4 separate regions of the Homo sapiens genome follow, and all the other regions are reported to be linked to region 2. Evidence: microRNA targets listed by miRTarBase, many of them from high-throughput screens and not tested one by one. Region 2 holds a microRNA gene; each other region holds the end of a gene's coding sequence.
The links. Region 2 holds the annotated microRNA hsa-miR-301a-3p (CAGUGCAAUAGUAUUGUCAAAGC, at 1,133-1,155, opposite strand). A microRNA usually pairs through its seed, bases 2 to 8, with sites in the 3' UTR of a target mRNA and lowers its output. Matches are read on the target gene's strand: a 7mer-m8 pairs with bases 2 to 8, a 7mer-A1 pairs with bases 2 to 7 and ends in A, and an 8mer does both.

Region 1: the mRNA of SFTPA1 is a reported target of hsa-miR-301a-3p. The part of its 3' UTR that is shown has no 7-base or 8-base seed match.
Region 3: miRTarBase lists AKIRIN2 as a target of hsa-miR-301a-3p. Seed matches in the 3' UTR shown: 7mer-A1 at 1,120-1,126.
Region 4: the mRNA of ARHGEF26 is a reported target of hsa-miR-301a-3p. Seed matches in the 3' UTR shown: 8mer at 1,515-1,522.

Annotation. Positions count from the first base shown.
Region 1 is chr10:79,613,606-79,616,829 of GRCh38, forward strand. SFTPA1 (surfactant protein A1) reads left to right here. Exons shown (of 6, transcript NM_005411.5): 6 at 132-1,838. The coding sequence ends at 508. Among named protein-coding and RNA genes, the nearest start is that of SFTPA1, 4.3 kb to the left of the region's middle.
Region 2 is chr17:59,150,017-59,153,016 of GRCh38, forward strand. It overlaps MIR301A (microRNA 301a), which reads right to left and starts at 1,205; the gene lies at 1,120-1,205. The region is part of intron 1 of SKA2 (spindle and kinetochore associated complex subunit 2); the gene reads right to left. RefSeq lists a silencer at 84-163.
Region 3 is chr6:87,673,107-87,676,344 of GRCh38, reverse strand. AKIRIN2 (akirin 2) reads left to right here. Exons shown (of 5, transcript NM_018064.4): 4 at 414-485; 5 at 738-1,485. The coding sequence ends at 748. It also overlaps a transcript of ORC3 not described here. Among named protein-coding and RNA genes, the nearest start is that of AKIRIN2, 28 kb to the left of the region's middle.
Region 4 is chr3:154,255,274-154,258,478 of GRCh38, forward strand. It overlaps ARHGEF26 (Rho guanine nucleotide exchange factor 26), which reads left to right. Exons shown (of 15, transcript NM_015595.4): 15 at 58-2,552. The coding sequence ends at 200. Among named protein-coding and RNA genes, the nearest start is that of DHX36, 68 kb to the right of the region's middle.

The DNA of each region.
Region 1 (3,224 bases), not on the chromosome of region 2:
GAGGAAGAGAAGACACAGAGAGAGGCAGAGATGGAGAGACTGGGGAGAATCTGGTAGCAGAGACCCCAGGTGAGGGAGGTGGCTTAGAGACAAAGTGGTCAGTGGCCTGACCCGGACTCCTCTGCTCTCAGCCCTCAGTCTGCAGGGCTCCATAATGACAGTAGGAGAGAAGGTCTTCTCCAGCAATGGGCAGTCCATCACTTTTGATGCCATTCAGGAGGCATGTGCCAGAGCAGGCGGCCGCATTGCTGTCCCAAGGAATCCAGAGGAAAATGAGGCCATTGCAAGCTTCGTGAAGAAGTACAACACATATGCCTATGTAGGCCTGACTGAGGGTCCCAGCCCTGGAGACTTCCGCTACTCAGACGGGACCCCTGTAAACTACACCAACTGGTACCGAGGGGAGCCCGCAGGTCGGGGAAAAGAGCAGTGTGTGGAGATGTACACAGATGGGCAGTGGAATGACAGGAACTGCCTGTACTCCCGACTGACCATCTGTGAGTTCTGAGAGGCATTTAGGCCATGGGACAGGGAGGACGCTCTCTGGCCTTCGGCCTCCATCCTGAGGCTCCACTTGGTCTGTGAGATGCTAGAACTCCCTTTCAACAGAATTCACTTGTGGCTATTGGGACTGGAGGCACCCTTAGCCACTTCATTCCTCTGATGGGCCCTGACTCTTCCCCATAATCACTGACCAGCCTTGACACTCCCCTTGCAAACTCTCCCAGCACTGCACCCCAGGCAGCCACTCTTAGCCTTGGCCTTCGACATGAGATGGAGCCCTCCTTATTCCCCATCTGGTCCAGTTCCTTCACTTACAGATGGCAGCAGTGAGGTCTTGGGGTAGAAGGACCCTCCAAAGTCACACAAAGTGCCTGCCTCCTGGTCCCCTCAGCTCTCTCTCTGCAACCCAGTGCCATCAGGATGAGCAATCCTGGCCAAGCATAATGACAGAGAGAGGCAGACTTCGGGGAAGCCCTGACTGTGCAGAGCTAAGGACACAGTGGAGATTCTCTGGCACTCTGAGGTCTCTGTGGCAGGCCTGGTCAGGCTCTCCATGAGGTTAGAAGGCCAGGTAGTGTTCCAGCAGGGTGGTGGCCAAGCCAACCCCATGATTGATGTGTACGATTCACTCCTTTGAGTCTTTGAATGGCAACTCAGCCCCCTGACCTGAAGACAGCCAGCCTAGGCCTCTAGGGTGACCTAGAGCCGCCTTCAGATGTGACCCGAGTAACTTTCAACTGATGAACAAATCTGCACCCTACTTCAGATTTCAGTGGGCATTCACACCACCCCCCACACCACTGGCTCTGCTTTCTCCTTTCATTAATCCATTCACCCAGATATTTCATTAAAATTATCACGTGCCAGGTCTTAGGATATGTCGTGGGGTGGGCAAGGTAATCAGTGACAGTTGAAGATTTTTTTTTCCCAGAGCTTATGTCTTCATCTGTGAAATGGGAATAAGATACTTGTTGCTGTCACAGTTATTACCATCCCCCCAGCTACCAAAATTACTACCAGAACTGTTACTATACACAGAGGCTATTGACTGAGCACCTATCATTTGCCAAGAACCTTGACAAGCACTTCTAATACAGCATATTATGTACTATTCAATCTTTACACAATGTCACGGGACCAGTATTGTTTCCTCATTTTTTATAAGGACACTGAAGCTTGGAGGAGTTAAATGTTTTGAGTATTATTCCAGAGAGCAAGTGGCAGAGGCTGGATCCAAACCCATCTTCCTGGACCTGAAGCTTATGCTTCCAGCCACCCCACTCCTGAGCTGAATAAAGATGATTTAAGCTTAATAAATCGTGAATGTGTTCACATGAGTTTCCATAGCTTTGGTTCCAAGAAATATCACATTTCTGTATTTTTGTAAATCAAATGAACTCTGACTCTGAGCCCCCACTTGCCTGAAGATTGGAAAATTCAATCTCAGGATGTGCTTTCTTTGTTTGGTAGGAGGAGCCACCTCCTCTCCTCACTATGATGCTGCAGAGGGATGGGGAGCTACAGCCACCATTTGGAAGAACATACGGGCTTCCTGAGTCCACATGGTCCATTTGTGGGTGGGAATACCATGTCTTCTGTCCCCTACTCAGCCACCTGAATGATTTCTGCAGCCCAGCAGTGATGGTGGCACTCAGGGCTCAGTCCCAGGCCTTAGTGAGCCATCCTAGTCTCAGGTCTGCATGGAATGGGACCACACTCTCATGACCCAGGGCTGCGCAGGAATGAGACAATGTCTCCAATTGCTTGAGGAGGCAGCTACATATGTGTCCCACCTCCCACTTCTCCCCCTATAACACCTGTGAACACTCTTTCTCAGTGCATTTATTGCTTTTCTTGGGCGGAAGGAAGCTCAGAAAACCAATGAGAATAAGAGGAAATTTTTCTCAGTCTTTTATGAGTGATAATTTTTAATCTGATCACCATTCCATATGTGCTTAGGACCCAGCACAGAAATTATTGAGCCTTCTTCAAAATTAAGAAAAAAAGCAAGTAGAAGCATGTACAGATGTATCTCGACTTATGATGGGGTGACATCCCAATAATCACATTGCAGGATGAGAATATATTAAGTGGAAAATGCATTTAATACACCTAACCTACCAAACATCATAGCTGAGCCTGGAGTAACTTAAACATGCCCAGAAAACTTATGTTAGCCTGCAGTTGGGCAAAATCATCTAACACAAGGCTGATTTTATAATGAGGTGTTGACTGTCTCATGAAATTTATGGAATGCTGGACTGAAACTGAATGAATAATTCAGTTATATGTGTACTTGAAGTATGGCTTCTACTGGATTTGCATTGCTTTTAAGTCATTGCAAAGTGGAAAAATTGTAAGTCGGACAGTTGTAAATCCAGGACAGTCTACATTCCCAATTATATAGATAAATACTTTAAGCCTCTGAAAATTTGCATCTATTGAGATAATCATGTGGTTTTTGTCTTTAGTTCTGTTTATGTGATGAATCACTTTTATTGATTTGCGTATGTGGAACCAAGCTTGCATCCTAGGGATGAAGTTTACTTGATTGTGGTGGATAAGCTTTTTGATGTGTCACTTGATTCGGTTTGCCAGTATTTTGTTAAGGATTTTTGCATCAATGTTCATCAAGAATATTGGCCTGAAGTTTTCTTTTTTGTTGTATCTGCCAGGTTTTGGTATCAAAATGATGCTAGCCTTACAGAATGAGTTAAGGA
Region 2 (3,000 bases):
CCACAAAGGAGCTTTTTGTAAAGTAACAGAAATGTTCTATATCCTGGCTGTGGTGGTGGTTACATGACTGTATACATTTGTCAAAACTCGTCAGTTCACTGGGCATGCCACACCCCTGTAGTCCAAGCTACTCAGGAGGCTGAAGTGGGAGGATTGCTTGAAGCCAGGAGTTCTAGGCTGTGCTGCATTATGATTGCCTCTGTGAATAGTCGCTGCCCTCCAGCTGGGCAACACAGCAAGACTTCGGCTTTGCTTAACAAATAGCTTACTTACTTTTATTTTATATAATTGTATCTCAATAAAATTCATATTTTTTAAAAGTGATGAATCCACACTATTGTATCTCATAAGAATAAACTGTAAAACAAACACTCTTAGGTTTTAAATTCAACCATTTCCTAGACAATACACAAAATTAACACCAATTAAGATTTGGAGGACTAGGCACAGTGGCTCACACCTATAATCCCAGCACTCTGGGAGGCCAAGGCAAGAGGACTGTTTGAGCCCAGGAGTTCAAGACCAACCTCGGCAACACAGTGAGACCCTGTCTCCACAAAAAATTTCAAGAAAATATTAGCCAGGCATGGTAGGACACGCCTGTGGTCCCAGCTACTTAGGAGGCTGAGGAGGGAGGATTATCTAAGCCCGGGAGTACAAGGCTGCAGTGAGGTGTAACTGGGCCACTGCACTCCAGCCTGGGCAACAGAGAAAGACTCTGTCTCTGGAGAAAAAAAAATGACTTGGGGCAAGTAACTGCAGGAAAAATATACAGCAGAAATTGTTTCCATCACTACCAATTCATCATAAAACTCAAATAAAACCTAAAGTTTGACAGAACCTATCCAAATATGTAACAGAAAGCAACAAATTATAAAGTATTACTCATTTAGACAAACCATAACAACTTAGATATAAAAAATATTCTCCAGACGTGTTTCATAATGCAGTAAAATATTGTTTTTAATTAGTTAAAAGGTTTTTTTTTTTCAAATTATGACTTTCTAAAAGATATACTGTTAGTAACAACATTATAGTTCTCAGCAACAAAGGTTGTGGTAAATTATTTACTGATACCGAAGAAAGATGTAAGGTAAGAATCAAAATTCTGGCGTGCATCCTGCTTTCAGATGCTTTGACAATACTATTGCACTGCTAGCTGTAAAGTACAGTAGTGCAATAAAGTCAGAGCATTCGTTAGCAGTAATAAGTAGGAAAGGAACACAAAAGCATCTTGCATCGGTTGAAGCTTCAGTGAGAAACGAATTTAAAGTAGGGTTGCCATTTTGGACAGAAAAACATCCAAAACCAAAAAACATTTATATCAATGTTTTTTTAAAAAAGGATAAGACTTAAATATCAAAGTGATGTTGCTTATTGATGACTAATATACAAATTAACATTCGAACAGAAACATGCATAGATGTAGAAAGGAATTTTGTAAATATGCCCTAAGCCTTAATAGTAATTAGAATGGGTATTGTTAATACTTTAGGATTGGTATTAACAAAACCAGTTATAATTACTACTAAGGCAAAGTTGTGAAAAATATTTTTGTTCTCTGCAGAGATGTTGGTTAGCTCCTTCTTCAAGGCAATTTACTGATTAAACGCCATGTAAAACAAGCCCTTTGAATAAAAGTATCAAAGAAAACAAATGAAAAGTAAAATAATAAGTTTCTCAATCTCTACATACTCAATCTATCACTCTGGAATCTAAACCACTAAACAAAGAAAACACAAAAGCACTTACCATCTTACAGCTTTTTATCTTGAGTTTACTAAGGGCTGTCATAACAACAGAAGGGAATCAATGTGCTCTAAACAGAACATTAACCCTATCTAACTGAATACTATCCAAGGGGATTTTAAAATTTCAGTTAACTCCTGAAATCTTAAATAGAGGCAGAAAGCATCTCCATTTCCTTCAAACTTAGAAATGTCAAAGAGAAAATAATGATGGGGGGAGGTGGGACTGAGATTTAAGTAACAAGTTTCCTTAGTTCCAAGCTAATTGACATTTTAACTTTTTTAACGGATAAGAACCCAATCAGAAGTCAGATGTAAACCCAGAAACAGAAATAGTATCATAGTATCACACTGCATTACCTTTTGTGTACAGTCACTAGTAGTACCACGAAAGAACAAAGCTAAACAAATACCACCCCATCATTAAGTGAAGGGGAAAAAGTCAGAGAACAAAGATTGCCCTACAATAAGCTTATTCCCCCATTAGTAATGTTGATTGATGCAAAAATATATTTTCATTATTTTCACCAACCTCCCTTTAAACGGTCCAATTCAACTACTTAGTCGGATTGAGCCTACTAAGGAAATGGGCTCATACAAAGGACAGCTGAAATATAAGTGTCTTGGTGTCAAATCCTGGGCCACATAACTAAAATATTAGAATATTTAACGCTGGTAGCCAAGTTTCAGGTTTTAAAGACAACTGTTTAAAAGATAAGTGTTTAACTTTCTGAATTGGAAGTTATTACAAACAAGAAAAATATTTAAAAAATTTAAGGTATTAACAAAATTAGGATAAACACTTTCTTTTCAAATTAAATATTATGCATTTCCTTTTACCTTGACAAATCCTTTATTTAACTGATGTAAAACCAAAAATCAGAAGATAGCACAGGAATCATTTACTCTTAAAATCTTATAAAATAAACTGGTCCACAAGTATAACATTTTTTTCTAGAAGCACATGGTAAATCTGAAGATGAGATGCACTGTCTTTTATTATCTAGTCAACACAAAGCAGTAATAATTAGAGCCATGATAAAAATTCATTTCTAAACCCTAATAATTATGGAAACAAACTAATAACCTGAAAGGAAAAAAAAAAAAGCTACCACTAATTTACTTGCAAGGATGTAAGAAAGGAAAAAAACCTCATTTCTTTTTTTCCTGTCTTCAAAAAGAATTTAAATACTACCCCATCATTCAAACAATACCTAAAAGTTTAAATGTCTGGCTACCTTATAATTTTCTA
Region 3 (3,238 bases), not on the chromosome of region 2:
ACAGGCGGCCTGCCACCATGCCCAGCTAATTTTTTTGTATTTTTAGTAGAGATGGGGTTTCACCGTGTTAGCCAGGATGGTCTCGATCTTCTGACCTTGTGATCCGCCCGCCTCGGCCTCCCAGAGTGCTTGGATTACAGGCGTGAGCCACCGCACCCGGTCCCAGCCTTTTTGTTAGGAAATAAATAAATCTCACCTAGCCTTTATGTCAGGTCATGTGATTGGACTAAAACCTAGGTTTCCTGACTAATAAGTTGCATGCTGTTTTTATTTGATACACTATTAGTACTACTGAGGTTATGTAAGTGATTTTGTCAACTTAGAATTGTTTTACTGTATATTTTGTGTTTTCAGTTTATCTGGCTCTAATAAGGCATTTTACAAATGTAATTGACAAGTACCTTTATTTATAGAACAATATGATGCGTTTGTGAAGTTTACGCATGATCAAATAATGCGACGATATGGAGAACAGCCTGCTAGCTGTAAGTATTTCACCTTTGAAGTTATAAACTGAAAATAAGACTGTCTTTTAAGGAGAAGACATTATAATTATTTTCATACTCAAAAAGAGAATTCAACAAAATTACTGAGAATGTATGGAGGAAATAGGCAGCATAACTTTGCAAGTCTTTTGGTTACTTAAATACCTAGGGGCAAAATTGGGAATCAAGATCTAGTATTCGTTTGGATTTTGACCTGTATTTTGCACTAATTTTCTTTTTCTCACCCTTTAGATGTTTCATGAATCACGTATCCTGCATTTGTGGGCTGCCTTGTTCCTTGTTGAGTTGTTGCAAGAGGTCCCAATTATGACATGCAGCAATGCCAATACCCCTTCTGTGAATACAGGTTATTTCAAGCTTTCGTCAGTGGCAACCACTCTTAGGCAGCAGCAACTGGTTTTGGAAATTTCCCTGATGTCAGTACCACCTGGATGTGGACCTTTGCTACCTGTATTAATACCAGTGGCCTCATTTTGCTGTATCATTACAATTTGGCTTCTTATATTAATGTTTGAAAAGGATTAAAGCTGGTATTCTAGAACATGCCCTTCACTGGTTGTGTAAATAAAACTGTAGAATGACACTTCAGATGAAGTTAGTGTGATTTTAATTGTGCACTACAACCGAGCTGTAACCAGTTACTAATTTTAGAATGTAATCCCAGGACAATATTAAGCAAATAGCCTGCAGTGCTTCCTGTGAAATAGTGAAGGAGGAGGGCATTTCTGTATTCCAGGACTTCTTGGGGTTTCAGAATGGGTTTGTATGATTTTTTTTTTTTTTGTAGTTTTATTTATTCTATCAGTCTTTTTAACAAATGTTTATTGCTGCATTTTTTTTTTTCCAGTGTATCATTGTTTTACTGCCCTTGTAGTACTGGAATTTAGTTGGAAGAATAAAACATTTACTTCTATTTTGCTTGTTTCTTAATGTACAGATGGGGTTAGTATTTGAATAAAGTTGGTGTTTTAAAACGTAAGCATTTTCCAGGAATCAGTGAAGTTAATTTTCTAAGATTTGAGTGCTGTTTCAAAACACTGAGTTCTGATTCTAAATGCCTTCTTCTGCTGGGCGCGGTGGCTCATGCCTGTAATCCCAGCACTTTGGGAGGCCGAGGCGGGAGGATCACGAGGTCAGGAGATCGAGACTATCCTGGCTAACACAGTGAAACCCCATCTCTACTAAAAAAAAAAAAATATATATATATATATATAAATTCCTTCTTCTGTAACTTACTGCCTGATAGAATGTTACAGGTATTTTAATTGCTATAGAATTACCTCAGATATCAGTAGGATCCAGTTTTTTCTTTTAAGAACTTGATATGCAAAAGCATGATTCAGCAAATTTGACTCCCTTTCCATACATGGTTTCTAGACATAGCTTTCTTATAATGAAGTAAGCAAAAACATGCTTCAGTGAATTCATTTGTTGAATTCTAGTAGCATATTTCCAAAATTTAAGACAATCTTAAATACACATTTATAACTGACCAAGTTAGAAGAAAAAGGAATTTTTTTTTTTTTTTTTTTTTTTGAGATAGAGTTTTGCTCTTGTTGCCCAAGCTGGAGTGCAGTGGCACGATCTCGGCTCACTGCAATCTCTGCCTCCCAGGTTCAAGCGATTCTCCTGCCTCAGCCTCCTGAGTTGCTGGCATTACAGGAATGTGCCACCACACCCGGCTAATTTTTTGTATTTTTAGTAGAGACAGGGTTTCACCATTTTGGCCAGGCTGGTCTCGAACTCCTGACCTCAGGTGATCTGCCCACCTCGGCCTTCCAAAATGCTGGCGTGAGCCACTGCGCCCAGCCAGACCTCTTTTATTTTTAGCTTTGGTAATTACATTTCACCAATTCTCTGTTTAAAACAAGCCTAGAAAGTGGTTTCACAAGGTGCCCAGGCAATTTATATGCCAATTAGTGGTTGAGAAACATTGGTATAGCACAGGGTAGCAATAAGGTGCATGATTCTATGCCCTTCCCCCCTACTTTTTTTTTTTGAGATGGAGTCTTGCTCTGTCACCAGGCTGGAGTGCAGTGCTGCCATCTCGGCTCACTGTAACCTCCGCCTCCCGGGTTCAAGTGATTCTCCTGCCTCAGCCTCCCGAGTAGCTGGGACTACCGGCATGCACCACCACGCCCAGCTAATTTTTGTATTTTTAGTAGAGACGGGGTTTCACCATGTTGGCCAGGATGGTCTCGATCTCTTGACCTCATGATCTGCCTGCCTCAGCCTCCCAAAGTGCTGTGATTACAGGCGTGAGCCACTGCGCCTGGCCAATTCTACCCCCTTTTAATGGTCTAGAACAGAGATTCTCAACTTCAGCACTACTGGCAGTTTGGGCCAGATCATTCTTTGTCGTGGTGGCTATTGCTGTGCATTATAGGATATTTAGCCACATCTCTGGCCTCTACCACTAGAGGCCAGTTAAACCCCCTCCCACAATTGTGATAACCAAAGTGTTTGCAGACATTGCCAAATGTCCCTGAGGGACAAAACAGTTCCCAGCTAAGAACCACTGGTTAGCAGGATAGCCTGTAGTCCCAGCTACTTGGGAGGCTGAAGCACGAGAATCGCTTGAACTCAGGAGGCAGAGGTTGCAGTGAGCTGAGATCATGCCACTGCACTCCAGTCTGGGTGACAGAGTGAGACTCTGTCTCAAAAAAAAAAAAAAAAAAAAAAAATTTTTTTTTTTTGCTCCACAGCCAAATTTCTGCATTATCACTTATGCA
Region 4 (3,205 bases), not on the chromosome of region 2:
GAGCCTGGCACACTCCAAATACTTGTTGTTTGGTGTGGACTCTGTTCTTTTTCACAGGCTGGTATGAGGGGGAACGACTACGAGATGGAGAAAGAGGCTGGTTTCCTATGGAATGTGCCAAGGAGATAACATGTCAAGCTACAATTGATAAGAATGTGGAGAGAATGGGACGCTTGCTAGGACTGGAGACCAACGTGTAGTCTCTCAGATGGTCTTTTGTTACTGCAAGATTTGCACGACACTTACCGGGCTGGTTGGTTCTGGGCTAGTTTTATTGTTAATTTTGTCACAGCCTATTTAATTAAAAGAACGAAAACACTTGCCTTTAAGCTTGCCAGGTTGTTCTGCTCTCTCATGAGAAGAGCTTGGATACAGTGAGTTTGCACAGCTCAGTTTTTACCTAACCACACACTTGCAGACCTCCTGAGGTACACAGAATAGCTGAGCAGTTCACTTCAGGGATCAGGTCATCTCTGCTCCTCCTAGTTTCACCATGTTCTGGCAATAAAAAACACATATTATATCCTGGTTTTCTCTATCCTTGCATTACTAAGGTGACTGTCTCTCTTTATACATCCTTGTATGGTTCTCCCAGTATTAGCAAGATTGTATATCTGTAAAGAATGTCCAGTTTTGTAAATATTTCCCTGCCTTTTTTTTTCTTTTTTTACATCTGATTTTAATGCTTCGTTAACTTCAAAAGGAACTGGTAGAGTTCAGAAGGTGAGCTGTTGTTTTTCTAAACCTCTTCCCAGGAAGGGGACATTGACACTTGAATTTTTGTCACCTTTTTCCTCATTAGAAGGAAAGTAGAAAGCCTTACTTTAGGATTTTTAAAAAAAAATCCATCTCACCCCATATTGTTCTTAAATAAGTATAGACTAATTAACCTAAGCTACCTTTAACAACGTAGAATTTAGATGGGTTCATATATGTGAGAAAAACCTGAATATAGGACAGGGGTCCTACTTTTTTCCCCACCTCTGTCGCCCAGGCTAGAGTATAGTGGTGTGATCTTGGCCCACTGCAACCTCTGCTTCCTAGGTTCAAGTGATTCTCCTGCCTCAGCCTCCCAAGTAGCTGGGATTGTAAGAGTATGCCACCACGCCCAGCTACTTTTTGTATTTTTAGTAGAGACAGGGTTTCATCATGTTGGCCAGGATGGTCTCTTAACTCCTGCCCTCAAGTGATCCACCAGAGAGGAGATCCTCGGCCTCCCCAAGTGCTGGGATTATAGGCATGAGCCACCGTGCCCAGCCTACTTTCTAATTAATTAAAAAAAAAAAAAAAAAAAAAAAAAAACCTTCCCAAATGAGCTGATAAAAAACTGACGTGAGGCTGCTTTGCCTTCAATAATACCTAGTTTTCAGCTGTTCCAACTCGTTTCCAAATAGAAATTAGCTGGAACACACTACAGTAATCTCAAGGAAGGGAAAATTAGGCCTTAAAAGATACCAAGAAGTCAGCATGGTACCCAATTGAAACCTTTTGACCTTAGTGGGAATTCATTCTATTTGCACTAAAAGCCTTAACTTGCTGTATTCAGAGTCCCTCTTAACTGTGAGTTTCTATAGAACTTTACTTTTTCCACTAGTGCACAGAGAGAGAAAGGTTATCTTAATAGTCGGTTTCATGGAGATGAAGGATGGGAGATTAAGAGGGGGGAAATGATTTTTACTGGCAGCTATATTCCCTCTCTGTTCTATTTGCTTTAACAAAGGGATAAAACCTGGCAAAGTGTACATTATTGGAGGACTCAAATCTGTATGTGACATGTCCCAACTACTGTCCGCTAACTAGTTATCCAAATTGTAAAGCTACAGAAGCCCAGTTGAGGGGTAAGTGTGCCTGGCTCACACAGCCTGCACCCTGTCACCTCGGCAATGAGCCAGTGTGGGGCACTGGGGACTTCTAACCCTTGGATTGCTCTTTTTGACCTGTGCATACCTTCTAATTGTAAAATATATTTCAGACCGTGAGTACCTTGAGATCTGAGCAACTGTGTTAATGAAGTAATAGCAATGGTCCACAGTGAAAGATGTGTTGGGGTTTGCAAAACAAGCATTCCGTCACCTCTTTAATAATGTCACAGACTTTTTAAAAGAGAGGCTATCAAGTTGTAATATAATCTGTCATGTTTTATTTAGGAAGGAAGGTAAATTTGTGCTTGCACGGGGATCATTTTGTATTATTTTTGCTAATACCCAGTTGAAGCTAAAAAGCAACTATTTGAATCCTGTGAATTAATTTATAAGAATGTTAAACAGCTTTGGAAATACATGCATCTTATGAATCATAGCCTTATTTAGCAAGATCAATGTTAAAGTGTTGTTATATGGCAAGTATTTAACACATTCACAGTGTTTGTTTGATTTCAACTGTGAATTGTCTTAAGTTTTTTCAAACCTAGTTGTTTCTATGGACACCTGCTCTGAATTGTACATTGACTTCATTACTAAAGAACAAAAATGTTCATTTTTGTCCCAGTAAATTGAGACTGCTTGTACACTTTCAGAAAAATATGTGAATTTATAAAGATTTTGTAGATACTTGTCCTTTTGTGCTGGTGTGATTTATTTTACTCTAGGTTGTTTTCAGTTAAGTATACAGTTTCCTGGGTTTTTGGCCAAATCAGAGCTCTATTTAAAAGGTATCTGTAGCTAACATTTCAGAGGACTAATCTTTTCTCTTTGGGTACATGCTGGCATCAGCTGCCCTAGAAGACTAGAACATTTTTAGGAGATGGGTCATGCTGTTTCTTCTCGTAGTTGGCATAAACCTGCAGGACTAAATCGCTTATCTTACATAGTGCACAGTTCCCTTATCCCCTGGAGCATATTCTACCATTCATTTGGTCACCTCGTATCTGAACCCTTGTGTTTGTGAAATTTTACCACCTTGTGAACCTTGGTAGAAGTAAAAAAATGACTTCCTTGACATTAGTTTTTTTTTTGCTGCATAACAAATTGCCACACACTTAGTGGCATAAAACAATACCCATTTAATATCTCACAGTTCTGTAGTCAGAAGTCTAGAATAGCATGGGTGGGTTCTCTGCTTAGAGTTTCACAAGGCTCTAAGTGTTGGCTGGCTGCTTTCTTACCTGGAGCTTGGTGTCTTCTTTCAAGCTCATTTCTGTTATTGGCAGGATTCACGTCCTTGCTGTTGCTGAGCTGAGGTCCTTGTTTGCTTGCTGGCTGTGAGC